Linked DNA regions of Homo sapiens: all the other regions are linked to region 1. Evidence: fine-mapped expression QTL. A gene starts in region 1. Each other region holds a variant in brackets. All regions are shown on one strand. Distances are from middle to middle.

Region 1 (4,326 bases):
CTCTAGAGCTGTGCTTGCTGTTCACTATGGTAGTAAAATGTGGCTAGTCTGAATTAAGATACGCTGTAAGTACTAAATACTCATGAGATTTTGAAGGTTTGTTATGAAAAAAACTATCTCATTAGTGATTTGACATTGATTACATACAGAAATCATTATCACTAAATATATCTTAAAAATTAATTTTTCCTATTTTTGTACTTTTTAAAATGTGGCTACCAAAAATTAAAATTACAGATGTAGGCCACACTGTGTTTCTGTTACACAATGCTCCTTTAGAGGGATAGAAGATTATTTGCATTATTTAAATGAAAATATTTTTGCTTTTTATTCCAGCATACTTAATCTCCAATGATTTTTAAAATGTTAAATTTATTCTCTCATAGGAAAATGGCTTTGTAAAGAAGCTTGAGCCTAAATCTGGCTGGATGACTTTTCTAGAAGTTACAGGAAAGATCTGTGAAATGCTCTTCTGTCCTGAAGCAATACTGTTGACCAGAAAGGACACTCCATATTGTGAAACCGGCCTAATTTTTCTGACTCTTACGAAAACGATTGCCAACACATACTTCTACTTTTAAATAAACAACTTTGATGATGTAACTTGACCTTCCAGAGTTACAGAAATTTTGTCCCTATTTAATGAATAAATTGTATGTATTTTTCTCTATATGCCATTTTTGTCTTCAGTTTTGGAGTCTGGCTGGAAATTCAGCCAAAGGGTAAAAGCTCAACACAGGATCCAGGCAATTAATTATGGGATGATGACCAGGAAGGCGGTGTCTTTTCTGCCCCAGGCAGACTTTTAAGGTGTGCCATTACCCCAAAAGTCCTTTTCTGTGTCACTAGGCTAGACTGCAGACTAGACTGAGAAGCGGACTCAGGCTAGAAGCAGACTCAGGTCGGCTTCCCTCTTCCCTCCTTCCTTCCCATGCTTTCTGCAGTTTCCAGTGCCCCTGGCTGCTTAAGAGTTTCCATTGATGCCTCCTCCCCAGCCTTCTCTCTCTGGCTTGCCATTTGGGGTTGATGGATATGGCAACCTGATATGCAGGATACTCTGGGATATTCTGAACAAAGAAAATTGGTAAATGATTCAACGTGGAGCTAGTGTTAATTTTAATTTTTATTTTTTGGTAAAAATGAACAGATTAGAAAAGTACGTAGTTTGTTAGACCTCGTGTTCTAACTTTTAGGTCAGCAAATCTAATTGCACTATGTATACGCTGTACCTGCCTGGCCTTCCCTTTTTCTTACAACACAGTCCCCCTGGGACTTGCATTAGCTTTCCCTGGAAGCTGTTGATAGATTCCATAAAGAAGCCAGAACTCCCCTCTCAAGCCATGTGCATTCTCACCGGGCACTTAATTAATGCTTTACCTAGGAGGTGTGATTCTTAACGGTGGGGATTAAGACACTGGGGCGGTCAGTAGGGACGTATTTTTGGCAGAGACAGCTCTGGTTTTCTTAGGAAGTCACATCTGAGAGGCAACCGTCTATGCCATCTGAGGCGCCTGTCTACTGGGAGCAGTTTAAGACTTAACAGTTTCTTTTACCTCTTCCTGCAAGTGCCTCACCCACCCCCCAACTGCTTTTAGTTTTAATTCATTTTTGTGTTTTAATCAGAGCTGAGTGGTGGGAATGAACAGTCACTGATGGTTATAACAGGAAGTACCTATGTGGGCACTATTACCTGGAATACATTCACACTAGAAACCCGCAAAATTTGGCTTTTACACTACAGTTATTGCTTTAGCAGTGTTCCCGATTATGTATCATCTATACATTCATCACATAAGGACATTTCCATCAACCACTGTGGTCCCTTAAGATTATAATGGAGCTGAAAAATTCCTAATACCTACTGATGTGGTAGCCAACCAACACATTACCTTTTCTGTGTTTAGATACACAAGTATCACGGTGCTTACAATTGCCTACAGTATTCGGTACAAAATACGCTGTACAGGTGTGTAGCATAGGTGTGTAGTAACTTTGTGTAACTACACTCTGATGTTTGCACAAGAAGGAAATCGGGGCATCTGTCAGACCTATCCCTGTAGTTAAGCGACTCGTGACGATTTCGCTACATGTCCTGCCTTGCCCTTCTTTTCTGGCCCCTGAAGTCCCACTACTGAACAGTACAAGAGATGCCAGGCACCGTGGGTACTGCCGGCCATCTTTACCATCCCCGCCAGTGGCGCTGCCGCCTCCGCGGTCCCGGTGAGGGCCCAGGCTCAGGGAGGTCAGGCGGCAGGGCAGCGACGGCGCCTCGCCACCGCTCCCCTAACCGGGGAGGGCGAGCCGGACCACGGGGACCGCACGAGGGCTGGGTCCCAAGGGCCAGAGGCGAGGTAAGCGCGCGGCGCGCCGCGGGCCCGCGTCCCGGAAGCGGGGTGGGGGCGCTTCCCCGAGCCCCGACCCGCCCCTAGGCCGCGGATCCACCTGGGAGCGGCCAGGGGCGGAGACCGAACCCGAGGGCGCCCAGGGCGCCGAGGGCGGGACTGGACTCGGCTTGGGCGTGAGATGGCGGCGGCAGCGGTGAGCAGCGCCAAGCGGAGCCTGCGGGGAGAGCTGAAGCAGCGTCTGCGGGCGATGAGTGCCGAGGAGCGGCTACGCCAGTCCCGCGTACTGAGCCAGAAGGTGCGAGGCCGCCCGTAGCGGAAGCCGCGGCGGACAGACCCTCCGAAGGCCTGGCGGCCAGCGATTGCTGATCTGTGCATGGTCCGTGCTGGCGCTGGGCTAGGCGCCCCCCCACCCCCCGGCGCGCGCACGTTTCCCCTCCCGGCGCGCGCACGCCCCCTAGTCGTGGTCTGGACGCTCTTGGCACTATGGCGGGGAGAGGGCCCGGTAGTGAAAGTTGTGGGGCTAAAGAGCGAGAGGACGGCAGGGGTTGACAGATTTATCTCTGGGAGGGGAGTTTGTTTGCATGGGTGGCTCTTTTGGTGCTCGAAAACCCTCCGTGGGGATGACGGTGCTGTGGTGAGAGCACGGTGAGAACAGAAAGTTGTGGTAGAGGAGATGGGTGAACACCTGAGTGCCCAGGTTCCCTCAGTGAGGCCTAAAGTTAATGAGCTACGAGTAAGACTCCGGTTATATTAGTAAAATGGCCAGAGAAAGATGCAGGTGCTTTAGACGAGGGAACACCAAAAAAGGTGTGGAGATGCCAAAGGGCAGAACTCAGAGGTTGACTGGACTTCACTAAGCATATGGAGGGCTAAGGCTGTGTCTCAGTAGCTCCAGGGCCTAGGCTTTTCCTGTCTCAGAGTTGGTCAACATTAAATGCTTTTTCTTGAGTGAACGAAAGGAAGACTTGGCTATCATATCCAGGCTTCCCAAGAACGTAGGAAACAGAAGAGAGAAATGAGAGGAATAAGTGAGGGTCCGTGTTTGTTGGTTAGCAGACCTCTGTTTCATTACTTTCACCAACTGCACTGCTATGTATTTTTAGTCTATGTAATGTCAGTTTTCTTATCAATAAAATGGCAGTCATATCCTGTTGTGAAGGCATGTTCTAAAGAGTTTTTGGGGACTCATTTTTGTTAGACACCAGAGGAAGAAAAATTTAATGTCCCCTGAATAAGTACGTATTTGTAATTCTGTTGTAAGTCAAACTGATGATCTGTCTTCCCAGCATCATGCTTCAGAGACACCAGATATTTGGAAACTTGATGTTCCTTGGAATTAGTTATACCATCAGGCTTTCTTAATTACCCTTCACTATTCTATTATCCGTTATTTACTCAAATTCAAGGTGCCTATGGGTTAAAGCAGTAAAGCATATATGCTCATTTCACCCCTCTCTTCATCTATGTAGGTGTGTATGAGGGAATCTATACAGATGTTAATTCGTTCGTTCAAACAGAATTATTTTAGCTATTATGAGGAAGCATTGCTGGGTGTTTTAGTAGATGTAAAGGATATAGACTCTTGTCCTTACTATCTAGTTGTTTAAAATTTAGCTAATTCATTCACATATGTTGAACACCTATGTAGTGCACACTTGGCTATATACTGGGTTGTGGAGATGAAAAAGATATGATTGTTGCTCTAAAGGAGCAGAGAGCCTAGAAGAGGAAACAGACATGAATAAAGAATTGCATTGAAGCCAGATATATGATAAAGGTAAACACCAATGTTGTGGAAACATAGCCTTGGGGAGGGGAAATTGGAAAGCTTTCTATTGGAAAATGTTTGAGATGAATTTCGGAGAACAAGATGAATTCTTTCAGGTGAAGGGAAAGATGGGATAGGGGAGTGTGAGTAGGGATATTTAGGCAAGAGATGACAGGATACAGTTTAGCATGGGCTTTGGAACTGCACAGATCT
Region 2 (4,326 bases), 25 kb after region 1:
ACAGCTGTGATATTAAACAATTGCCATTGATTTTTAAAATAAATGTCCTAGGGCTAGGGCTTTTTGCATGGAGAGAGCTATGAGTCAGATCAAGTAAAGATAAGACCTGACAATGCACCTTTTCAGGGAACTGCCAGACAAATTAATTAGTGACAGTTTTCTGGGATGGAGCTTTTGTTGAGCTCCAAACCTGTTCTGCCCCTCCATTGGCTGCCAGGCTGTTGGTGGTTGTCACAGCTATTTTAGTTGTAAGGCTGTTGATTTTCAAGTCTACCATGAAGCTGGGGAGAGGGGGATGGGAATGGGGCAAGTTGAAAAGGCACAAAGCTCACTGTTCTTACAGAGAATAAACATTTAGATTGGTGTAAGCCTTTGACTAATTTCTAGAGTTTTGAAAAGTTGATTTTGACCATTTTTCCCAATGTTCTTGCTGGTTTTATTAAGGAGCAGATTTTTAGTTTTCTACTCTGCCATTCTAGAAGTGATTCTGAGCCAGTGATTTAGATAGTAGTTGTTTTCAAACACTGGAATGCATGAAGCTCCACTGATTGATCTGTCTGTGAGTTGCAGAGTGCATTCAAGTTTTAGCACTTCTCTAGTTGTCCTTGGCTGTTACTCTCTGCCAAGCTCTCTCAGATCTTCCCTGCATATCCCTATAGTTTCTAGTCAGCCAGGTATGTAGGAAGAGTTTATCTCAGCCCTTCTATGGACCTCTTATTTTAGTATAGCCACATTACATTCCCATTATGCTCTTACACCAACTGGGATTACAACCTTGGCAAGTAAAGCTGTAATTTTTCCTGTAATATTCCTATGTTTAGCTCACAAAGCCCCCTACCACAAGTTAAGTCTGCCCCTTCTGGCAGCAGAGCTGCTGTTTTTTCCAGCCAGCCCCATATTGGTAAAACTGCCATTCTTGAGGACTGAGCTGGGGGCCTGGGAACCTCACCAGGTAAGAGGACCAGAGACTTCTGCTGTTCCTACTCAGTCTTTGGTCAGCTTCCAAATCCCTGAAATGGCTGGCTTTGGATGATTTTGTTTGATATACAGTATTTTTTTTTTCAGAGAGGATTTTCACTGATTTCTTACCATCATTGCAAAAGGGAATGTTCAGGAGAGGAAATTTCTGATTTTTCAGGGATGTGGTATGTGGGAGAGATGCATAATGTAATAACAGTCCAAATTTCTTGAGTACTTACTACCTGCCAGAAACTGTGCTAAGCAATTATTTTGCATTGCTTCATTTGATTCTTTCCATACCCTGCAGAGGCATGGGTGCTATTAATATCCTGCTCCTCTATTTTATAGATCAGAAAAAAGGCTCAGATGAAGTACCTTATCGATGGTCACACAACTCATGAGTGGCAGAAATAATATTAAGACCCAGGTCCCTTTGGCTGTTAAGACCCCAGCCCTAAACCACTACATCATATATCTATAGCTGGAGCCTGGCACCAGGAGGCGTCACAATGGGATTGAGATAGGGATACAGAAAGAAGGATGGGGACTGAAAGGTGAAGGGTCCTGAAGCCCTGAGCTTCCTCTTTTGCTGTTCTCACTCTGTTTCCTGGAGGTTTTACTGAGTGCCCTGTGGTGTTGACTGCGTCCTACTTGCAAGCCCTGTGGTCTCCCTAATGGTCAGCTAGGCTGGGCCTCTAAGGTCTTTCAGAAGTGCACAGCCCTATGGTGAAAAGGCATCCTTTCTCATGAGGTAACAGACCAGCAGGACTTGCTTTTTGGTCACGACACTGCTGACCAAAACAGGATGTGGTCCAGACAGGATAAAATGGAGAAACCGGCAGAAACCAGCAGACGATGACAAAAGTGATCCCTGGCTGCTGTCATTGCTCATTGGCATAAGAAACTCCTACCAGCACCATGACGATTTACAAATGCCATGGCAATGACCTGGAAGTTACTACCCCTTTCCATGGCAACAACCTGGAAATTACGATCCTTTTGTAGAAAGTTCTAAATAACCTCAATTTGCATTGACCTGCCCCTTAATTTACATATAGCCAAATGTGGGTTTACCTGAATGTTAAATACAGTTGCCAGGAGCCCCTGCCTTGCTGACTCTGGGCTACTGCCTGAGCGCTAGCCCTACTCTGCAAGGAGCAGTACTGTTCAGTCAAAGGCTCACTCCTGAATTCTTTCCCGGCAAAGCCAAAAACCCTCCTGGGCATAACCCCAGTTTTGGGGCTCACCTGTCCTGCATCACTCACATGACATTTCCCTATTTAAACACCCATGATCCCTGAGCCCTACAAGACCAGAAGGTCATAGGGCTCCACAGTGTTACCTGGTAATGTTACAGAATTAGATCAGAGAAAATGGGATTTCTTCATTGTAGTGTGCTTAATGATCTCTGTAAAGAGTATAGCATAAAAAAGCTTCATTAGTTTGAAGACTTATTTTGATTGAACTGCAGGATTTCTGTTTGGGCCTCGTGTATTCTATTAAAATGAAATAAAGTAGCTATACTTAAATTTTTTTTTTTTTTTTTTTTTTTTTGAGACGGAGTCTTGCTCTGTCGCCAGGCTGGAGTGCAGTGGTGTTATCTCAGCTCAGTGCAACCTCCACCTCCTGGGTTCAAGCGATTCTCCTGCCTCAGCACCCCTAGTAGCTGGGATTACAGGTGGCCACCACCATGCCCGGCTAATTTTTGTATTTTTTCGGTAGAGATGGGGTTTCACCA[T/C]GTTGGCCAGGATGGTTTCAATCTCCCGACCTCGTGATCCATGCCTCGGCCTCCCAAAGTGCTGAGATTACAGGCATTAGCCACCGTGCCCGGCCTATGTAAAAAATTTTAATTTTAATAGCATTTGAAGTCAGCATTTAATTTTCTTCTTTTCTTTTTGTTTAAGCATTTCAAATTGTCACTTCAAACATTATACAGAGTTTCCTTGGTAGTACTTAAAAGTACTATTTTTCTAGTAATCACCTTTAAGTTTGGCATTAATTTTTTTTGTCTGAGAATATTTGTATAATTTTTTTATTCAGCAAAACTGCAAATGAATCGTTAATTATAAAAGAGGTAATGAAAGAAGATAAAGTGGAAATTGAACACTAAAAAAAAAAAAAATCCCTTTGTCTTGAATTCTCCCCTCATCAATTTTCTGTGGGGCATCCCTCTGTAAATAGCTTATGATTGAATTTTTGATATTTGTACCCAACTGGTAGTCTTTTAGTTAGGCTGTTCAGTCTGTCCTCTTTTTTTGGGAATAATGCATGTGTCTGGCCTTCTTTCTGTTACCTTTGTCATCATGTTTTTGGGAGACAATTTTTTTTGTCATTTCCTTTTCTTTGTGTCCTTTTTTCCCTCTAGTACTTCATAATTATGCATTCATTTCTACTATTGGTTACATTAAAATATTTTTAGCCTCAAATTCTCACTAGCATTATAAATATAGTATTTATTGACCTTACCCCTGTGAAAGACAAGAAATTAAATGTGCCTTTTCTTTTCTTTTTTTTTGAGACAGAGTCTCACTCTGTTGCCTAGGCTGGAGTCGAATGGAGCAATCTTGGCTCACTGCAACTTCCACCTCCCAGGTTCAAGTAATTCTCCTGCTTCAGCCTCCCCAGTAGCTGGGATTACAGTCATGTGCCACCACGCCCAGCTAATTTTTTGTATTTTTAGTAGAGACAGCTTTCACCATGTTGACCAGGCTGGTCTCGACCTCCTCAGTTCAGGTGATCTGCCTGCTTTGGCCTCCCAAAGTGCTGGGAATACAAGCATGAGCCACCACGCCCGGCCAATGTGCTTTTTCTTTCTAGCTTTTGTCAACATAAACTGGTGTTTAAAATTAATAGTAGTTTAAAGATGTGTATATTCTTTAAAGAATTTTTTTCATTGACATTCGATTATTTTCTTACTATATTATAGAGTATAGAGAAGAGTCATTTAAACTGAACTGTAAATTTTCCTGGGTTCATGATTCCTTGTTCCTACTGTTATAGCATATCTTCTTTATTCTTGATTTATGTATTTTGATGAATTTCTTGGTCAGATGGAATATTCCTTTAAGTAGTTTTTTTCAGCATGGTCCGTGAGTGGTATGTTTTCAGAATGCTTTTATTTTTGAGGCTGTCTTTGTACACATCAGTGAATTCTTGAATAGGATAGAATTCTAGGGTCACAGTTTTTTGTTTTTGTTTCTTTTGTCCACCCAGAATTCTAGCCCAGGATTTGGCAATTATTTTCTGTCAAGTGCTAGATAGTAAATATTTTAGGCTTTTCAGGCCATGGAATCTTTGACAGCAGCTCGATTGTGCCACTGCAATATGAAAGAAACCATAGACGGTACCAAAACAGACAGTGTTCCA
Region 3 (4,326 bases), 150 kb after region 1:
CATGTTGGGCCAGTTGGATTCTAGGGTGTCCACAGCAACATGGGACATGAGGCAGTATTTATTTGTGGGCATTATTATTATTATTTTTTTGAGATGGAGTCTCACTCTATTGCCCATGCTGGAGTGCAGTGGTGCGATCTCGGCTCATTGCAACCTCTGCCTCCAGGGCTCAAGGGATTCTCCTGCCTCAGCCTCCTGAGTAGCTGGGATTATAGACATACACTGCCATGCCTGGCTAATTTTTGTATTTTCAGTAGAGACGGGGTTTCACCATGTTAGCCAGGTTGGTCTTGAACTCCTGACCTCAAGTGATCTGCCCGCCTTGGCCTCCCAAAGTGTTGGGATTACAGGCGTGAGCTACCACGCCTGGCCAGTATTTATGGGCATTTTTGATAACCAGTGTGTGCCATTCATTTTTATCTCTAGAAAGCTATAAGTAAGCAAACACTGAGCTAGTTAGCAAGGTGTCTATGACAGCTCAGTGCTGCTGTCAAAATCACCTGCTCATTTGCTACTTTTCATTGTCACCTGGGGAGTAGGGCAAAATGGAAACTCCTTCAAGGCCATGCACAGTGGCTCACACCTATAATCCCAGTGCTTTGGGAGGCCAAGGCGAGTTGATGGCTTGAGGCCAGGAGTTCTAGACCAGCCTGAGCAACATGGCAAAATCCTGTCTCTACAAAAAAACCCCAAAACCTCAAAAATCAGCCAGGTGTGGTGGCACACGCCTGTAATCCCAGCTGCTCAGGAGGCTGAGATGGGAGGATTGCTTGAGCCTGGGAGGTCAAGGTTGCAGCTGCAGTGAGCCAAGATCACTCCTGCTGTACTTTAGCCTGGGCAACAGAGTGAGACCTTGTCTAAAAAAACGGAAGAGAAATGCTCAGAGACTGTAACATATTAATCTTTTTTACATCAATGGTAATAAGCAAACTGGCCAAAATGCTTAATCAACTTCTTGGCCAAGTTTAACCCCTTTTCATGCAACCTAGACCACATTTTAGGTGCAGTGAGTGTTAACCAAGGACAAACTGCTGCTCTTTCCCCACCGCCACTGAGTCACGGAGGCAGAGGCTCAGGTGTGTTCAAGAATCAGCTTCACCCATAACCCACCGCCATGGCCCAGGAAGGCATCAGTGCTGGAGGTGTCATGGACCTTAATACTGCTTTACAAGAGGTCCTGAAGGCTGCCCTCATCCATGATGGCCTAGCACGTGGAATTCGAGAAGCTGCCAAAGCCTTAGACAAGTGCTGGGCCCATCCTTGTGCTGCCCCCAACTGTAATGAGCCTGCCTATGTGGCTGGCTGGTGAAGGCCCTTGTTGCTGAGCACCAGATCACCCTAATTAAGGTTGATGACAATAAACTAGGGGAAGGGATGGACCACTGTAAAACTGACAGAAGGAAAACCCCATAAAGTGGTTGGCTGCAGTTGTGTAGCGTTAAGGACTATGGCAAAGGATGTCATCAAAGAGTTTTTTTGTTGTTGTTTTTTGTTTTGAGACAGTCTCTCTCTGTCACTAGGCTGGAGTGGGGCAGTGGCATGATCTTGGCTCACTGCAGACTCCACCTCCTGGGTTCAAGCAATTCTCCTGCCTCAGCCTCCCAAGTAGCTGGGATTACAGGCACACACCACCATGCCCGGCTAATTTTTGTATTTTTGTATTTTTAGTAGAGACAGAGTTTCACCATGTGGCTCAGGCTGATCTTGAACTCCTGACCTCAGGTGATCTGCCTGCCTCGGCATCCCAAAGTCCTGGGATTATAGGTGTGAGCCACTGCGCACGGCCCTTCTTTCATGTTTTAATTCAATGGAGTTTTGCATGTACTAAGTTTTCAAAAATACATGTTGAAGGAACATTTTTATCTGTACTCCGACACACACCCAATTGTCAAATTGTCTTCACAGCTCTCAGACTTATAGATTTAGAATCTCCTCAGGGACTTGATCTTAATTGAAGACAAAGGAGATCCTAAAGTGACTTTTTGTCCTAGTGGTCAGCTGGAATGTGGGAGGAACAATTTCAGCCCAAGAGCAAGTTGAAAGTTTTCTCGGGGAGGAGCCAAGTTGGCCGAATAGGAAGAGCTCTGGTCTGCAGCTCCCAGTGTGAGCGACGCAGAAAACGGGTG[A/G]TTTCTGCATTTCCATCTGAGGTATCAGGTTCATCTCACTAGGGAGTGCCAGACAGTGGGCGCAGGTCAGTGGGTGTGCGCACCGTGCGCGAGCCGAAGCAGGGCGAGGCATTGCCTCACTTGGGAAGCACAAGGGGTCAGGGAGTTCCCTTTCCTAGTCAAAGAAAGGGGTGACAGATGACACCTGGAAAATCGGGTCACTCCCACCCGAATACTGCGCTTTTCTGACGGGCTTAAAAAACGGCGCACCAGGAGATTATATCCCGCACCTGGCTCGGAGGGTCCTACGCCCACGGTGTCTCACTGATTGCTAGTGCAGCAGTCTGAGATCAAACTGCAAGGTGGCAGCGAGGCTGGGGGAGGGGCGCCCGCCATTGCCCAGGCTTGCTTAGGTAGACAAAGCAGCCGGGAAGCTCGAACTGGGTGGAGCCCACCACAGCTCAAGGAGGCCTGCCTGCCTCTGTAGGCTCCACCTCTGGGGGCAGGGCACAGACAAACAAAAAGACAGCAGTAACCTCTGCAGACTTAAATGTCCCTGTCTGACAGCTGGGAGAGCAGTGGTTCTCCCAGCACGCAGCTGGAGGTCTGAGAACGGGCAGACTGCCTCCTCAAGTGGGTCCCTGACCTCTGACCCCCGAGCAGCCTAGCTGGGAGGCACCCCCCAGCAGGGGCAGACTGACACCTCACATGGCAGGGTACTCCAACAGACCTGCAGCTGAGGGTCCTGTGTGTTAGAAGGAAAACTAACCAACAGAAAGGACATCCACACCAAAAACCCATCTGTACATCACCATCATCAAAGACCAAAAGTAGATAAAACCACAAAGATGGGGATAAAACAGAGCAGAAAAACTGGAAACTCTAAAAAGCAGAGCACCTCTCCTCCTCCAAAGGAACGCAGTTCCTCACCAGCAACGGAACAAAGCTGGATGGAGAATGACTTTGACGAGCTGAGAGAAGAAGGCTTCAGATGATCAAATTACTCTGAGCTACGGGAGGACATTCAAACCAAAGGCAAAGAAGTTGAAAACTTTGAAAAAAGTTTAGAAGAATGTATAACTAGAATAACCAATACAGAGAAGTGCTTAAAGGAGCTGATGGAGCTGAAAACCAAGGCTCGAGAACTACGTGAAGAATGCAGAAGCCTCAGGAGATGATGCGATCAACTGGAAGAAAGGGTTTCAGCGATGGAAGATGAAATGAATGAAATGAAGTGAGAAGGGAAGTTTAGAGAAAAACGAATAAAAAGAAATGAGCAAAGCCTCCAAGAAATATGGGACTATGTGAAAAGACCAAATCTACATCTGATTGGTGTACCTGAAAGTGACGGGGAGAATGGAACCAAGTTGGAAAACACTGCAGGATATTATCCAGGAGAACTTCCCCAATCTAGCAAGGCAGGCCAACATTCAGATTCAGGAAATACAGAGAACGCCACAAAGATACTCCTAAAGAAGAGCAACTCCAAGACACATAATTGTCAGATTCACCAAAGTTGAAATGAAGGAAAAAATGTTAAGGGCAGCCAGAGAGAAAGGTCAGGTTACCCTCAAAGGGAAGCCCATCAGACTAACAGCAGATCTCTTGGCAGAAACTCTACAAGCCAGAAGAGAGTGGGGGCCAATATTCAACATTCTTAAAGAAAAGAATTTTCAACCCAGAATTTCATATCCAGCCAAACTAAGCTTCATAAGTGAAGGAGAAATAAAATACTTTACAGACAAGCAAATGCTGAGAGATTTTGTCACCACCAGGCCTGCCCGAAAAGAGCTCCTGAAGGAAGCACTAAACATGGAAAGGAACAACTGGTACCAGCCACTGCAAAATCATGCCAAAATGTAAAGACCATCGAGACTAGGAAGAAACTGCATCAACTAACGAGCAAAATCACCAGCTAACATCATAATGACAGGATCAAATTCACACATAACAATATTAACTTTAAATGTAAATGGACTAAATGCTCCAATTAAAAGACACAGACTGGCAAATTGGATAAAGAGTCAAGACCCATCAGTGTGCTGTATTCAGGAAACCCATCTCACATGCAGAGACACACATAGGCTCAAAATAAAAGGATGGAGAAAGATCTACCAAGCAAATGGAAAACAAAAAAAGGCAGGGGGTTGCAATCCTAGTCTCTGATAAAACAGACTTTAAACCAACAAAGATCAAAAGAGATAAAGAAGGCCATTACATA
Region 4 (4,326 bases), 35 kb before region 1:
CCTTCCAAAGTGCTGGGATTACAGGCGTGAGCCACCATGGCTGGCCCAGGCTACACCTACTCTTAAAAGGGACCTTGTGTAACATGATGATGTAGCTTTGAATGCATCAAAGGTGAAGAGATAGAAAGGCATGTCTTTTATCTTGGCCGTTGGAGAGGTTGGGGAAATTCATTTTCTCTCATGTAGCCTGCAATCCCACCTTTGAAAGCAATACACACACTCCAGCTGTCCTACAGTATACACATACCTTCTCCCTGCCAGGATAAATACATTTAATACCATGATCTGCCCTGCTGTTATTGCACAGCAGAATTTTGGTGGTTTGCTCATGAGTTGTCTATAAATGATACTATAACATGATTTGAACCCAATATTCAAGTACTTAGTAAGCAGAGTTGCTAACTGATACCTGCATCTGACTCAAGGTGGACTAAATACCAGGCCATACCTCTTGATCAACTGACATCGGCTGCAAAAATAGGCAGTAGAAAAAGCTCAAACAATTTGGGAGGATTGTTGTGGTAGGGAAGAGGAAACAAGTCCTCTAATAATGCAGGTAGACAAACATGCCCACAGACAAAGCAGCTCTGTTGGCCACTACTTCGTTTGTAGGTGCCCCATGTGAGGTAAACCATACCCACTGATAACAGGGAGCCACCTGTGCCATACCCGACTATTCGTCTCTAACCTGCCCTGCCCAACACCTTGCCCTCATTTCTCTAGAATAGAGTGAAGATGTGCGATGAAGGCTATCTGGTTTCTAGGAACCATGGGAAGATAGAATCTGTTTACACAATGGTAAAGCTCCCTTCTGCATTAGGGAGCTTTGCAGATTGGGCTCTAGTCGAGCAGATCTGGTTACCAACTGGTCTCAATGCTGGAAACTCACAACCCTGCCAAGGCACAGAATCCCTAACCCTTAAATGCAACTGTTTCTTCCAAATGCCCTGCTACAAAGGGCATGGAAACAAAGGTTGCAACTGCCTGCAACCACTTCCTTTTGGCATTCACAAAGAATCACCCTGTCATCTAGCATTGAACCCAGTGCGCCTGGCTTTCATTTGTTTCCCTGGCTCTTTACTTTGGCTTTTCAGATCTGCTTCTAATCTTATTTCAGGACCCGTTCAAATTTTTCTTCTCTGATGTATAGGCCCAGGACTGTTGCCAGTAAATTCTGACTCTCAAATCTTCTTGCTTTGTTGATTGTGGTGGTACTACTACCCTGGGTAAAAGACTCCTTCCGCTAACTTCTGCTCCCAAAAACTCCTACAGGCTGGGCTAGTTCACTAACCTTTGCAACGAGAAGCTCAGATGCTGAAGCTTTATTTTTATTTTTATTTTGAGACGGAGTCTCACTCTGTCGCCCAGGCTGGAATGCAGTAGCGGAATCTAGGCTCACTACAACCTCCACCCCCTGGGTTCAAGCAATTTTCCTGCCTCAGCTTCCCAAGTAGCTGGGACTACAGGCATGCACCACCACGCCTGGCTCATTTTTTTGTATTTTCAGTAGAGATGGGGTTTCAACATATTGGTCAGACTGGTCTTGAACTCTTGACCTCAAATAATCTGCCCGCCTCGGCCTCCCAAAATTCTGGGATTACAGGCGTGAGCCACTGTGCCTGGACACTGAAACTTCACTTTAGCAAACTGCTGACTGATGGGTCTCCCGGCTTTCCTACCTATCTCTCCAGTAGCTGGAGTACTGCCCAAATACACAGCCAACTTTCGAACAAGAGATCCAGGAAC[T/C]GCCTTCCTCTCTAAGGAACTGATTCCTTCAGTGCGGATTCCAGAGGTGCTGAGACATCAAAACTGGCAAACTTGCTCTTAGAGGAAGAAGATTGAGTTGTTGGGTATCACAAAGGCAATGACCCTTAAGTTCTCAACATTGTTCCTCAATCCCTACCCCAGAGGGTGGCTAACTAGGTATTAATACTTTCTTAAGTAGAAGAATGGAGAACTCATCATGTTCATGGGCCAAAGAAGATTGTGAGCGCAATTCTGAAGTCAGATCAGCTGGGTTCAAATTCAGCTCCACTACCTTCTGGCTATGGGACTGGAAATTATTTAACCTCTCTGTGTTTCAGTTTCTTCATTTGTAAAATGGAGATGATGATGGTAACAGCAGCTACCTCTAAAGACTATGGTGAGTTTTAAATGAATTATTACGTGTCATAAAAGTGGTCAATAGCTGTTACTATTATTACTGGGCCAGTTTGGAGACCTGGATATTTACAGAATTAAACTTCCAGGGCACATATAACTTTGTCTACATAAGAAGGATGATGGACAGAAAGTAACTTTGTAGACATACTTGGTCAAATTGAATAGTTGATGATGTCCTTGTCTGTGTAATACTCCAGGGGTGCCCAAAGACTCAGAAATAGAATTCGCTCAACTTCTTAGAAGGCTAATTATATAAGTATCTTAATGGCAGCTTAATTTACTTTTGCTTGATACAAGTTTCTATTTATAATCTACTCTCTCCATTGCATCTCCAAGTCAATACTCAGAATAATATATTTTAAATCCTAGGGCAGATTATTGAGACTTATTTTATTGACTTGGAGATTTGGATTATTTCTAGTATGTTTTCTTCCATCTTCGAATAGTACTTTCTCTAAAACATCAAAGACATTCAGAAGTGGTTCATATTCCACTTTTCCAACTTCACTGTCCTACTGATATACTAAAGAAAAAAAAAAGAAATAGTAGATGTTATTTAAGAATCTTATTTTTCCATCTCCTGCCAGAAAAATGGTGAAAGACAAGGTATTTGTTTCACTTTGGGTAAGACAGCAGCTTCCTAACAGTTCAAGAACCTGTTCACCCTCTGCTCTGATCACAGACTTACCCACCCCTACATCTATATAATATATGCCCCCCAACAGTGTGGTAGGGGACCACCGTCTAGACAGAATCCCCCTAAGAAACTCCCCTTTCTTTTTGCCACCAAGCTTTCAATTCTTATATACCTAACCTTTAAGGTTCCTGGGATTCCTTTGTAAAATTGCATTGTGCCAAGACAGTGAAGAAGAGGCCCTTTGATAGACCAGAGGGAGGCACATCTGGAGGAAGGATGCTGGTAAGGAATAAATGAAAGAGGATAAATAGAAAATACCTGACCATCTGTACCCATGAAGATTAAATGAACAGACCGTCTAGTGAAATGATCTGTTATTTTAAAAAATGGATGGATTGGATAGCAAAGGTTTTGTCAAAGGAGTGAGCATTTTCTAAGGAAATGCAAATATTTCTATGTCTAGTAATTTCTAAATTACTTTTTAGCATGTGCTCAGACAGACACACACACACACTTTGATTTAGGATTTTAGAATGGCTAAATATCTTTAAGCCATTGAGTAACAGTTTTTCATTCTAAATGCTTTTAGTGGCTTGTAATATTTTCCACTTTGTCAGGAATTTTGCTAAGCGCTAACATGCATGTAGGAGCAAGTTATGAAAATGGCCACACCTGCTTAGAAAAGAAGACAGTCCCTCTTCCAGTAAGAAAGCAAGGCTATCATAAAAGACAACCCCTGAAAAGCTAGTTGGGCTAACTGCGATGCATACTTTAGACACCTACTAGCTCTGTATCTATATAACAGTTCTTGTATCTATACAACAGTCACATTTACAGTGACTTAAAAAAAATGCTCTAACGCTTCTGAGTCACCAGAGAGGACAGGGTATCATAGTTCACCAGAAAGAGGAAGATCCTGGCAAGGTTAAGGATAGAAAGGAAATATTCTTGTCCTCATACTCTCTCCTCAGCAACTCCTAAGGGCTGTTGGCTCTCAGGAGGTGGAGAGTGACCTAGTTTTAAGGACGACATATATAGTATGACATGTTGCTCTTTTGGAAGGGAAAAATATAATTGTAAAAGTCAACCGGCCGGGTGTGGTGGCTCACGCCTGTAATCCCAGACTTTGGGAGGCCAAGGTGGGTGGATCACGAGGTCAGGAGTTCAAGACCAGCCTGGCCAAGATGGTGAAACCCTGTCTCTACTAAAAACACAAAAATTAGCCAGGTATGGTGGCGGGCGCCTGTAATCCCAGCTGCAGGAGAATCACTTGAACCCGGGAAGCGGAGATTGCAGTGAGCTGAGACTGCACCACTGCACTCCAGCCGGAGCGACAAAGCGAGCGAGACTCCTTCTCAAAAAAAAAAAAAAAAAAAAAAAAAGAGTCAAACATTCGGCTGGGCGCAGTGGCTCACTCCTGTAATCCCAACACTTTGGGAATCCGAGGCAGGCAGATCACCTGAGATCAGGAGTTTGAGACTAGCCTGGCCAACATGGTGAAACTCTGTCTCTATTAAAAATACAAA
Region 5 (4,326 bases), 42 kb before region 1:
TCGGCTCACTGCAACCTCCGCCTCCTGGGTTCAAGCAATTCTCCTGCCTCAGCCTCCTGAGTAGCTGGGGTTACAGGTGTGCGCCACCACGCCCACCTAATTTTTGTATTTTTAGTAGAGACGGGGTTTCACCATGTTGGTCAGGCTGGTCTCAAATTCCTGACCTCTTGATCCACCTGCCTTGGCCTCCCAAAGTGCTGGGATTACAAGAGTGAGCCACTGCGCCCAGCGGAACTGTGCTTGTCTTTTAACTATTTTGCTTTGTCAACGATCTTGCTTTAACACCTCGGAATTGATCTAACAGGTGGATGTGGGGTAGGGTTGGAAAAAAGCACCCTTTCTTCTCATTATATAAGAAATTACATTATAGAAATTTGAGAAAAATAAAATGAAGAAAACAAAAATCACCTATATCATAATCCTGATATATTTTTTTCCAGTTTTTACTATGCTTTTATAAAATAAACTTGACATTATAATAGATATTTACTTTTATACTGTTTTTTCTTTTTCTTTCTTTCTTTCTTTTTAAGAGACAGAGTCTCGCTGTGTCACCAAGGCTGGAGTGCAGTGGTGCGATCATAGCTCACTATAACCTCTTTGAACTTCTGGGCTCAGGGGGTTCTCCTGCCTCAGCCTCCTGAGTAGCTGGTACTATAGGTATGAGCCACCATGCCTGGATAATATTTTGAATATTTTTTGTATAGACAGAGGCTCGCTATGTTGCCCAGGCTGGTCTCGAACTCCTGGCCTCAAGTGATCCTCCACCTCAGCCTTGTTCTTTTCTTTTTTTCTTTTTTTTTTGTTTTTTTGAGACGGAGTCGTGCTCTGTCACCCAGGCTGGGTGCAGTGGTGTGATCTCGGCTCACTGCAACCTCCGCCTCCTGGGTTCAAGCGATTCTCCTGCCTCAGCCTCCTGAGTAGCTGGGACTACAGGTGCGTGCCACCGTGCTCGGCTAATTTTTTGTATTTTAGTAGAGATGGGGTTTCACCATGTTAGCCAGGATGGTCTCGATCTCCTGACCTCGTGATCCACCTGCCTTGGCCTCCCAAAGTGTCGGGATTACAGGTGTGAGCCACCTCGCCTGGCCGTTTTTTTCTTAACATTATAATATAACCATTCTTTCATTTAAAAATTCTTTTAAAACATTAATGAAAAGAGAGATGTGTCTAATTTCACAAGGTACAAATTTTTTACATGGAGATTGTTTTTAGTTTTTTACTGTTATAAATATTTCCAAAATAAACATTTATGTACATGAATATTTTTTCCAGATAATTACTTTTTTAGGTTAAATTACCAGAGCTAGAATTATCTGACCTAAATCTATGAATATAGTTAAGCTCTTGGAGAATACTGCCATATTGTTTTTCAAAAAGCTTACTGTAGACCAGGCGCGTGGCTCATGCCTGTAATCCCAGAACTTTGGGAGGCCAAGGAGGCGGAGAACTTGAGGTCAGGAGTTCAAGACCAGCCTGGCCAACGTGGTGAAACCCTGTCTCTACTAAAAATACAAATAATTAGCCAGGCATCGTGGCGGGCACCTGTAGTCCTAACTACTCAAGAGGCTGAGGCAGGAGAATCGCTGGAACCTGGGAGGCGGAGGTTGCAGTGAGTCAAGGTGGTGCCATTGCACCATCTGGCATGGGTGACTGAGTGAGACTCTGTCTCAAAAACAACAACAACAACAAAAACCAAAGAGCTTGCTGTAATTTACACTTTCATTGACTGTCGTATGAGGGTGAGTGCCCTTTTTACCCCAAAACATTGTACCTTAAGACAGGGTAAGAAGCAATATGATGAAAAGGAGGAGGTAAATGGAAAAGGGAGATCAGGCGGTAAATGGAAAAGGGAGATCAGGCCATCACTTGAGAAAGAATATTCATTTCTGAGTTCTCTCCTTCTACATGAGTATGTGATGGGGCTATTTTGCCATTCTGATTTTCTTGGGGGCTTTTAGCCTTGCCTTATCATGCATCTAGGGAAACAAAAGATCTTCAATCATACGATGCTTTGGTGCTGCTGGCATTCAAACTTATCATTTGACAGGGAGGTGAAGGAAATTAAATCGCACAGTCTGGACACTTTGGAACATCCTTCCTCCCTCTGTCTTTTCTTCTCACCCTTCATATCTGATTGACAAATCCTGCCATTCTGCCTCCTCTCTGTCACCACCTCTCCATACCTATCACATTCTCTAGTTCAGGCTGTCATCATCCTTCACTTGAATAGAATGAACAAATTACCTATGGTCTATTTATCGAACAGTACACATA[T/C]AGTAGTGAAAATCATGAACTAGGGCTAAATTTTTATTTTAAAATGCAGTTAGATTTGTTACTAGTTGGATGCATCTAAATTATCGAACTAAAATATCATGCCAAATTTGTTGTTTTCTTACAACTTTATCATGGGTCTTTGCTGAGAAAACTTACTTGAGGTCTATAGGTATGTCTCTATATTGTATCTACATCTCCATATGAAACAGAGCATTTCAGCTCTTTCATACTCCATCATTTTGAATGAAATTAAATAGGAAGTTTCAAGCTGGTAGGGAAGAAACCGATGGCAATGCTTGAGGAGGAGAGGGATCAAATGAAATGCTGAATTGTGAGGGAAATCCACCTTAACGTGATTCATGTCAAATTCAGAAATTTTAATATTTGTAGTAAACTCTCATGTCCACACTCTTCAGAGAAGGTCTGAGAGTTGAATATTGCTTAGAAGGCAAGGAAAATTGAGAGTAGAGAAATGCTGTGTTTCACCTCTGTTGCATGCACTTAAGAGGAAGAATTTATAAATGGCAGACTTGGGTGACTTTGCTATTCTATTTTGGCTCCTATTTTTTGTCATTTTTCTTGATGTTTTCTTCTCTTTTATTGTAGTATCTTTTTTATACATGGTAACTATGGACAGCAGAATTTCTTACAAACTTATTTCCTGAAAGTAAAATGATATCCATTTTGGAGAATACTTGGGAATATCTTGTTAATTTGAAGATGCACATATTATGTAACCCAGAAATTGTATCTGTAGGCATATACCCTAGTGAAACTCTTGCACATATGCACAAGGAGACATGTACAAGTATGCACTTGCCACATTGTTGGTTATGTCTTCTATTAATAGAAGAATGAACAAATTACCTGTGGTCTATTTATTGAACAGTATACCATACAGCAGTGAAAATAATGAATTAGGGTTACATGTATCAACATGGTGAATCTTGAAAACATAATGCTGAGGGAAAAAGAAGATGGCATAAGAATACTGATAGTATAACAGCATTTGAAATAGTGTGGCATAGTCATGCAGATGTTCTGGTGTCAGGCTCACTTGGTTCAAACCTGCTTCTGTTCTTTCCTAACAGTAAGACCTTGGCAATTCTCCAACCTTGATTGGCCTTCATTTTCTTATCTGTAAAGTGGGGATAATATTTTCCACATCTTATGGTTATTGTGAAAATTACAACGTTAGTACTAAAGTATTAAGAGGAGTACATAGCAGGATTATATTTATGCAGTGCATATTCCATTTAAAATCATGCAAAACAATACTGTATTTGTATAAGAATGTGTATATGTTGGTAAAAGTACATACAGATAAATGAGTGAGAATGATAAACACAAATTTATGATAGTAGTTATCTCCTGGAGGAAGGGATATTTCTTGAGCTGTAGTGGGTACATGATTGTTTTGTTGTTATACTTCTTATGCCTTTGTGTATGACTGAACTATTTCATGATAAAATTTAAATCAAATGAATGAAATTTATTCTTTTTTTTTTTTTTTTTTTTTTTTTTTTTTTGAGACGGAGTCTCGCTGTCACCCAGGCTGGAGTGCAGTGGTGTGATCTGGGCTCACTGCAAGCTCCGCCTCCCGGGTTCACGCCATTCTCCTGCCTCAGCCTCCCCAGTAGCTGGGACTACAGGCGCCCACCACCACAACCAGCTAATTTTTTGTATTTTTAGTAGAGGTGGGGTTTCACCGTGTTAGCCAGGATGGTCTCAATCTCCTGACCTCGTGATCCACCCGCCTCGGCCTCCCAAAGTGCTGGGATTACAGGCGTGAGCCACCGCGCCCGGCCGAAATTTATTCTTAAAACTATAAATACAGTGTAACCAAATTTCTGAGAAATTGGAAACACGAGGAAAAACTCCAAATTATACCATCTTACCTCACAATTTTTAAAAAATTAAGTAATTTCTCCAACAACTGAGTGAGACTGGTGAATGAGAATGTTATTTTTGTAGCATTTTTTTTTTTTTGGAAAGAGTCTCGCTCAGGCTGGAGTGCAGTGGCGTGATGTTGGCTCAGTGCAACCTCCG
Region 6 (4,326 bases), 170 kb after region 1:
GGATTATATCTGTTATTTTTGCAAAAAAAAAAAAAAAAAAGCACATAACACAAATGTAACCATATGGAAACCTGAAGCAAACCAAAATGTGATATCCTACAATGGAACTGGGTTAAACTCCTCTAAAATATTATGGTCATGCAATGGAACAGAACAGAGAGCCTGGGAATAAAACTGCACACCTACAACCATCTGATCTTTGACAAAGTCAACAAAAATAAGCAATGAGGAAAGGATTCCCTGTTTAATAAATGGTGCTCGGATAACTGGCTAGTCATATGCAGAAGAATGAAACAACCACTGCCTTTCACCATAAACAAAAATTAACTCAAGATGGATCAAAGATTTAAATGTAAGACTTAAAACTATAAGAATCCTAGAAGAAAATCTAGGAAATACTATTCTGGACATTGGCCTTGGCAAAGAATTTATGGCTGAGATCTCAAAGGCAATCGCAACAAAATCAGAAATCGACAAGTGGGACCTAATTAAATTAAAGAGCTTCTGCACAGCAAAAGAAAATATCAACAGAGTAAACAGGCACTCTATGGAATGGGAGAAAATGGTCACAAGCTATGCATCCAAAAAAGATCTAACATCCAGGATCTATAAGGAACTTAAACAATTTAACAAACAAAAAAATAAATGATGCTATTGAAAAGTGGGCAAAGGACATCAACAGACACTTCTCAAAAGAAGACATATACACAGCCAACAAATATATGAAAAAATGCTCAGCATCACTAGTCATCAGAAAAATGCCAACTGAAACCACATGAGATACCATCTCACACCGGTTAGAATGGCTATTACTAAAAAGTCAAAAAATAACAAACGCTGGCGAGGCTGCAGGGAAAAGGGAATATGTATATACTTCTGGTGGGAATGTAAATTAGTTCAGCCATTGTGGAAAGTAGTTTGGAGATTTCTCGAACTTAAAACAGGACTACCTTTTGACCGAGTAATGTTATTACTGAGTACATATACAAAGGAAAATAATTTTTTCTATGAAAATGCACTCGCACTCACTGTGTATGTTCATCACAGCACTGTTGGCAATAGAATCAACCTAGGTACCCATCCATGGTGGACTGGATGAAGAAAATGTGGTAAATATACACCATGGAATACTGTGCAGTCATAAAGAAGAATGAAATCATGTCCTTTGCAGCAACATGGATGGAGTTGGAGGCCATTATCCTAAGTGAATTAACACAAGAACAGAAAACCAAATACCGCATGTTCTCACTTGTAAGTGGGAGCTAAACGTTGGGGTACACATGGACACAAAGACAGGAATGATAGACACTGGGGACTCCAAAGGGAGGGAGGGAGGTGTGCAAGGGCTGAAAAACTATTAGGTATTGCACTCACTGCCTGAGTGACGGGATCATCCTTACCCCAAACCTCAGCATCACACAATATACCCATGTCACAAAACTGCACACGAATCCCCTGAGTCTAAAATAAAACTTCAAATTAAAACATTGTTATGGCCATGAAATACAAGTAGTTCAGAGAAAGCTATCTACATATATACACATACATGTGCACACACAAATATACTTACATACACACATATATGGAGGAGAGAGATTGAGAGAGAGAGAGTGATAAGACACATGTAGTAAAATATTAAACATGGCTACCCCTCATTTTGCAAAGAATCTGAGAGAGAAAAGAGACCGAGGCAGGGAGCAGGCCAGCCTGAGTCTCCAAAGCAGGCTGTTGGCAGGAAGTCTACTAGACGGGGCACCTGGACTGTGCCAAGGACAAGCCTTTCTGCTCTTTCCCACCAAGGTGGATAATGGGAGCTACTTCTTAACTTTGGCCTCACTATTAATCACCTGGAAACTATACTCGTGTAATTAATTTTAAGTGATAGAAAAGCTATGCATGCTTTCTGTCTCTTC[C/A]CTTTTCATCTGCTCTTGAACCCACTACATCAAAGTATTCTCTATTGGTTCTATTGAATCCACCCCCTGGAAAAACTTTCTAACTGTCCAATCCAATAGACACTTTTCACTATTTATATTATTTGGCCTCTTGAAAGTCACTTGAATTTGTTGACTAATCCCTCCAACCCGAAACTCTTCAGCCCTCGCTTCCTTGCGACCCTTTCCTGGTCTCATAAATGAAGGGGCATCACCATCCACCTTCACTTCTAGGAAGCTTCATCCCAGCCATCTACATGGTTACTTTTTGCCCAGATTTTCCTTAAAAGTTGGGGTTCTCTGGTGCTCAGTTCATTATCTTTTTTTCTTCTTTCTCCACAATATGCTTCATTCTTTTTCGCCTTCTCTTCTTCTTCAAGTCAGGACACTTTTAGTTGAATGTGACGAAAACTCCACTCAATTCTTGTCTCAAAATTTTTAATTGTGGCAAAATACATGTAACATAAAATGTACCATCGTAATCAGGTTTAAGTGTGCAGTTCAGTGGTGTTGAGTGCCTTCACATTGTTGTGCAGCTCCTCTCCAGTATGTTTTCATCTTGTAAAACAGAACCTCTGTACCCATTAAACAGCTCCCCATTCCCCCTCATCCCAGCCCTGGCAACCACCATTCTTCTTTCTGCCTCTGTAAACTTGACCACTCTGGGTACCTCATGTAGGTGGAATCCTACAATATTTGTCCTTTTGTAAATGGCTTCTTTCACTTAGCATAATGTCTTCAAATTCATCCATGTTGTAGCGCATATCAGAATGTTCTTCCTTTTTAAGGCTGAAAAATATTCCATCATATGTATACACCTCATTTTGTTTATTCATTTATCTGTCAATGGACACTTGGGTTACTTCTTTCTTTTGCCTATTTTGAATAGTACTGCTATGAACATGGGTGTGCAAATGTCTCTTCAAGACCCTGCTTTCAATTCTTTTGGATATATATCCAAAAGTGGCGTTGCTGGACCACTCTATTTCTAAACTCCCCCACACACCCATAAAAAGAGAAATGGGAGAAGAAAGAATAAAAAGGGAGAGCTGTGGGCACAGTAACTGGGACATGTGGAGGTGGACTCTGGGCCGCTTGGACGTAGGAGCTCAGATGGTGCTGTCATGGTACAGTTCCTCTTTTTGAGTCTTGACTTTTTCCTGACTGCTGACCTGGCCCTGCAGAAACTGTCTTCCATGTGGTAAGAAAGTTTTCTCCAAAGGCCTCAGATTCACATCTTGCCAGCATGGAAACCCCAGCAGAGAGAGAATATCTCTCCTAAGACTACATATCAATCCTATACAACTAAAGACAAAAAGCGAATCTACTGAGAATGCCAGAGCAGACAGGTAGGAAGGGCTTTGCTCTTGATCATATCCTTGAACTACTTTCGAAAACTGGAACTCATTTCCTCCAGACATCCCTCAATGTGAGGTAATTAAATGTCTTCATTGCTTAAGTCTCTGCTTTGCATTGCTACTTGAAGGAAACAGATAACTCCTATACTGTATAACCACAATAAAGTCTCCCCTTATAGAAAAAGAGAGGAGAAATAACATGCTGTGGTCACATGTTCTGCTGTAGTGGAAAAGGAACAATTCCCTTCTCTGGCAGTGGGGTGACTCATCATCAGTCAATTTGGCTACCCTTCATTTTGCTCTTTAAGAAAATTTCTCTTGTCCATTGAGGAACAGATTCAGCTGATATGCCTTTTCCTTTTTGCTTGGAATGCAGATATGGTGGCTGGAGTTGCAGCAGTTTGGGGGAGGAATATGAGGGAAAAGCCAAGAAAATCTCAGAGATGTTAGCCCTAAATCTACTGGATCGATGTCAGTAACCACCTACTTCTAGCTTTCTTGTTGCACAGAAAAATTTTAAGTGCTCTTTGAATCTAGGCTTCAGCTTTTTAATATATCTGTGTTAGCTACAGGCCTAGATGTTTTGCTTTGTAGTTTTCTTCAGACATGGCTTTGTGGCAACATGAAACAACAGAACTGGGAGGTAAGGCCCTTGCCCAGGTAGCATCACCGTGGATAGGTTTGACTCCAGAGGCAGCACTCAGACACTGGACCAAATTGAGGACAAGCTAAAACAAGGACAGGGTGGACGTACCTTTCCATAAGACATGCCCACAAATGTGCCATGTCAGGTTACCATTGCCATGGCAATACCCAGAAGTTACCACCCTTTTCCATGTCAATGACTGATAACCTAGAAGTTACCACCGTTTTTCTAGAAATTTCTGCAGTTTGCCCCTTAATTTTCATATGATTAAAAATGGGTATAAACATGACCGCAGAACTGGCTCTGACCTGCTACCCTGAGCACACTGCCTATGGGGTAGCCTTGCTCTGCAAGGGGCAGCACCTCTGCTGCTGCTGTACACTGCTGCTTC
Region 7 (4,326 bases), 49 kb before region 1:
GTTTCTTCATGAAAAATTTTCCAGTTTTTCTCTCTTCCCTGTTCTCACTCTCTCACCTAAAGAATGCATACTTAGCCTTGTGATTTCAGCTGAAAAGTCATTTCCTTGGAGTGGGGGTGGGGGTGATGGTGGAACGGGGGAAGGAGGGGTCACCAGCAACCTCCTGATCTATCTAAATGGAGAGAATGCTCTGTGCAGGCTGACTGTATTATCGTTTGCATGATAATTTTATTTCTTCCTGCAAATTGGCACTTGGTTTATACATTGATTAGTGGTAGTACTTCCCAAACACAACCAGTGAGACCGCATGGCACTTGGTTATTGGGTTTTCCCTGGTGACACTGTGGCTTTTCTTTTAAATTTCTACAATGACTACCTACCACCCCGAGCTGAGGAAGTCAGCCCCTTCTGAAAACTAGCTTTCCATACCACCCTTAAAGTGTGGTGCAGCGCTTCAGCTATAGCTCCGTCAGCAAAGAGTACAATGGGGTTTCTTCTCTTGACCTGGACTTCCAACAGCAGCTGGGGATTTTATTAGCTTAATAAGTTGCTCTTCCCACCTCATTGTCGCATGACACAGCCTTCCCTCACTGACTCAGCAGCTATCTGCCGAGCATCCGTTCCACACCAGGCCTGGTGCTGAGCAGTGAAGATACAGGTGACTACAGAACATGGGCCGGTCTCATACTTCACAGGATGAACAAGAACAGAGCTACAGAGCTAATAAAACAGTGCTGTGACAGAGGAGGAGGTGCATTTTAGTGTCAGTTTTGGAGATCCTGGGTTAGAATCTGATAACCTTTATGTAGTACGTACGTGAGCTAGGGCAAGACACAGGATTTCCAAACCTGTTTCCTCTTCTATAAAAATACTGTAATAATAAGTACTTTGTGGTTCATTTTGAGGAACATAAGAAATTTAACTTGGCACCTGGCATTTAGTAAACTCAGAAATGGTACCTATTATCACTGGCCTTATTGTAGTCCAGATGCCCATTCTCCTCTCATCCTCCAGTGTTTTTTTTGTTTGTTTGTTTGTTTTTTTTTAGACAGATTCTCGCTCTGTTGCCCAGGCTGGAGTGCAGTGGCATGATCTCGGCTCACTGCAAGCTCCGCCTGCCGGGTTCACGCCATTCTTCTGCCTCAGCCTCCCAAGTAGCTGGGACTACAGGCGCCCACCACCATGCCTGGCTAATTTTTTGTGTTTTTAGTAGAGACGGGGTTTCACCATGTTAGCCAGGATGGTCTCAATCTCCTGACCTCGTGATCTGCCTGCGGCGGCCTCCCAAAATGCTGGGATTACAGGTGTGAGCCACCATGCCTGGCCTCATCCTCCAGTTTTTAAATTTTTCCCATACTAATCAGCCTTATGTTTACCCACAAGAATCCACTCACACGACTGTGCAATAAGGACCACTGAATATTTTGTCGGGGAGAGAGGTGAGAGGCCACATAAAATATAACTGAAAAAAAATTCCTCTTAGACATTTTTATTCTTCAAATTTTTCTTCCTGGCTGTGTTGTTTCCAGGGACTTTCCCCTTCTCTCCTCTCCCTCCAATGCAGGAGAAACTAGCCTTCTTATCCCCACAATCTTTTCTTTGTATTTGAGTGATTTCCCTCTACTCTTCCCTTTGGGAAGCAACTTTAAGTCCTGTAGTCATCTTATGTACAGCAGTTGAGGGATCATGTTTTTATCATTTTGGCTTCTAGCTCTCTACCCCAAGTGTCTTCCAGAAGTACTTCTTAAAAAAAGAAGTCATACACATGGTACTTTCCTAGGAGGAGTTCTAGTGAATAAAATGCCTGTCACTCAGACTGGAGTGCAGTGGTGCTCACTGCAGCCTCAACCTCCTGGGTTCAAGTGGTCCTCCTGCCTCAGCCTCCCAAGTAGCTGGGATCACAGGTGTATGCCACCACAACTGGCTAATGTTAAATTTTTTTTGTAGATATGGAGATCTTGCTTTGTTGTCCAGGCCAGTCGTGAACTCTTGAGCTCAAGTGATCCTCCCCTCTCAGCCTGCAAAAGCTTTGGGATTACTGGCATGAGACACTGTGCCCAGCTACATGTTTTTTGACTTAACACATAGGGTCAACCAAAATTTCCATGTTTTTCATATGATGGTCTCTCCTATCACATGCTTTCACAATGTTTATTTAACAGTTAAAAAATTTTTTGAACTTTTATTTTGCACTAATTTTAGTTTTACAGAAAAGTTGCAAAAATAGTACACTTCATCTAGCTGCCACCAACATTAACATCTTATATAGTTATAGTATGACTATCCAAAGAAGGAC[A/T]TTAACATTGATACAGTATGATTAACCAATCTACAAATCTTACTGGTATTCCCCAGTTTTCTCACTAGTGTCCTTTTCCGGTCCAAAATCTAAAACAGATCGTGCAGTTTAGTTGTCATGTCTCCTTAAAGCTGTGACAATTCCTCAGTCTTTGTCTTTCATGACTTTGGGACTTCTGAAGATTACTAGTCTGGCATTTTATAGAATGTCCCTCAATTTGGGTTTGATGGTTTTTCATGATTAGATTGAGGTTATACATTTCTGGCAGGAATACAACAGAAAGCTGTGTCCTTTCCAGTGCATCATACTGGGGGGAACATATGTCATCTTATTAGTAATGCTAACATTGACTACTCAGTTAAGGTGGTGTCTGCTAGGTTTCTCCACTATTAAGTTTCTTGTGGGGATATATTTTTAAGATTATGGTGTTTTTGTGATTATGATGTTTCTCATCATTCTTCCACCCACTAAGCTTAGCATCCATCAACAGTTTTCATCTGCAACAATTATAACTGCAATGTTTGCTTAATGGTGATTTTCCATTTCCATTATTCCTTCCACATTTATTAACTGGAATTATGTGATAAGGAAGCATATCTCTTCTCTCCTAGTTATTTATTCATATCAGTGTGCACTATGGATATTTATTTTATGGGTTATGATGTAAGATTATCATTATTTTGTTGCTCAGATTGTCCAAGCATTAGCCATTGGGAACCCTGATTCAGCTCCTGGCTCCCTCTTGTCATGCTCCCTTCCTTTCAGAGCATGTCCTTGCTTTGTGGCACCACAAGATACTCCAGTCTCGGCTCTGATTTTCACTGCCCCAACTCTAGAATCAGCCATTTCTCCAAGAAGCTCTTTTTTTTTTTTTAAATTGGAAAATGATATTAAGAAACCAAGATCTTGATGTTAGATTTCATTGCTACTGGTGTGTTATTGCTTCCAGGTCCTCTCACAAACAGAGCCAGTTAATAAAATATAGAAAAAAATGTAAATAAAGATATTTCTATATATTTTGTATCTTTTTTTTTGTTTTTGTTTTTGTTTTTGTTTTTTTTACACAATATTTATTGAGTGCCTCCTCTCCCGAGTCCTTGCAGTCTCTAGGTCACTTTTTCTGCTTGTAGATTTTGTACACAAGCCCCAGAAACATGGCTGGGAGCAGGGGCGCTGCGTACTGTTCAGTGAGACCCATAATGTGGCTGTAACCGTCTTCCTCATACTGCAAGAACACGGCCGGCAGATCCAGCTCCTCATACAGTGCCTTCACCTGGACTACCTTCTTGGCCTTCTTCTGTCCGTAATTTTCCTTCAGGATCTGGTACTGTTCCAGAGTGGATCGTTGCAGACACTGAACCACCAGCCAGCTGCATTTGTTGTCCTGGATGTCAGTGCCAACTTTGCGGGTCACAGTGGGGTCCCCAAAGAGGTCAAGGTAACCATCCTGAATTTGAAAAAACTCTCGATCTCCAGTAGGATCTTCTAAGCATTGGCGTGCTGCTTCTCACCATCGATTCCTACCATGTACATGGCTGCAGCTACAGGAAGGTAGAAAGAGTAGAAAGCTATCTTGTACTTGACAATAGATTTGTACCTGTTTTCAGTGAATCTGCCAAAATCCACATTGTCCTAGGGGCTGTGATGAGGTCCAGGGTCTGCCCAATCTCAGGCTGACAGGAAATCTGCAGGAAGAGCTCGATCAGGTTCAGGTAATAGGGCTGTGCTTGGCAATAGAGCTTCAGCAGGTAGTAGATACATGCTTCCAGAAGGATAGCATAATTGATGGCATCCTACCCCATGCCCATCTTCTGATAACAGCAGATCTGTCCCCAGCGGGTGAGGGATGAATCCATGATGTCATCTGTCACCAGGAAGAAAGCTTGCAGCAGTTCCATACACCAGCCCACAGTCAGGCCCTCTGGAGACTATCAGCATCCTGTTTCCTTGGTTCCACCAGCTCCTGGAACGCTACTAGCACCGTCAAACCCCGGTGATACTTGCCTCCAATGGCATTGTACTCCAGGACG

What was found. PIP is the estimated chance that this variant, and not a neighbour inherited with it, causes the effect.
Region 2: its variant is the best candidate, but not a certain one, in a credible set for the expression of MTHFS in whole blood (INTERVAL, PIP 0.84).
Region 3: its variant is the best candidate, but not a certain one, in a credible set for the expression of MTHFS in prefrontal cortex (BrainSeq, PIP 0.57).
Region 4: its variant is the best candidate, but not a certain one, in a credible set for the expression of MTHFS in tibial nerve (GTEx, PIP 0.54).
Region 5: its variant is the best candidate, but not a certain one, in a credible set for the expression of MTHFS in tibial nerve (GTEx, PIP 0.74).
Region 6: its variant is the best candidate, but not a certain one, in a credible set for the expression of MTHFS in whole blood (INTERVAL, PIP 0.59).
Region 7: its variant is the best candidate, but not a certain one, in a credible set for the expression of MTHFS in whole blood (TOPMed, PIP 0.54).

What each region holds. Positions count from the first base shown.
Region 1 is chr15:79,895,186-79,899,511 of GRCh38, reverse strand. It overlaps MTHFS (methenyltetrahydrofolate synthetase), which reads left to right and starts at 2,498. Exons shown (of 3, transcript NM_006441.4): 1 at 2,498-2,640. The coding sequence starts at 2,524. The region is part of intron 2 of ST20-MTHFS (ST20-MTHFS readthrough); the gene reads left to right. ST20 (suppressor of tumorigenicity 20) reads left to right here. Exons shown (of 3, transcript NR_037653.2): 3 at 387-670. RefSeq lists an enhancer at 2,000-2,049 and a silencer at 2,190-2,489.
Region 2 is chr15:79,870,292-79,874,617 of GRCh38, reverse strand. All of the region lies in intron 3 of ST20-MTHFS (ST20-MTHFS readthrough), which reads left to right. The region is part of intron 2 of MTHFS (methenyltetrahydrofolate synthetase); the gene reads left to right. Among named protein-coding and RNA genes, the nearest start is that of MTHFS, 25 kb to the left of the region's middle. RefSeq lists a silencer at 77-371. The variant T/C (reference allele first, on the strand shown) is at 2,699.
Region 3 is chr15:79,748,838-79,753,163 of GRCh38, reverse strand. It overlaps the pseudogene RPS12P25. Among named protein-coding and RNA genes, the nearest start is that of TRC-GCA5-1, 6.3 kb to the right of the region's middle. The variant A/G (reference allele first, on the strand shown) is at 2,127.
Region 4 is chr15:79,930,094-79,934,419 of GRCh38, reverse strand. No RefSeq gene overlaps it. Among named protein-coding and RNA genes, the nearest start is that of ST20, 8.5 kb to the right of the region's middle. The variant T/C (reference allele first, on the strand shown) is at 1,747.
Region 5 is chr15:79,937,436-79,941,761 of GRCh38, reverse strand. No RefSeq gene overlaps it. Among named protein-coding and RNA genes, the nearest start is that of ST20, 16 kb to the right of the region's middle. The variant T/C (reference allele first, on the strand shown) is at 2,278.
Region 6 is chr15:79,723,739-79,728,064 of GRCh38, reverse strand. No RefSeq gene overlaps it. Among named protein-coding and RNA genes, the nearest start is that of TRC-GCA5-1, 19 kb to the left of the region's middle. The variant C/A (reference allele first, on the strand shown) is at 1,914.
Region 7 is chr15:79,944,662-79,948,987 of GRCh38, reverse strand. It overlaps the pseudogene FDPSP9. Among named protein-coding and RNA genes, the nearest start is that of ST20, 23 kb to the right of the region's middle. The variant A/T (reference allele first, on the strand shown) is at 2,297.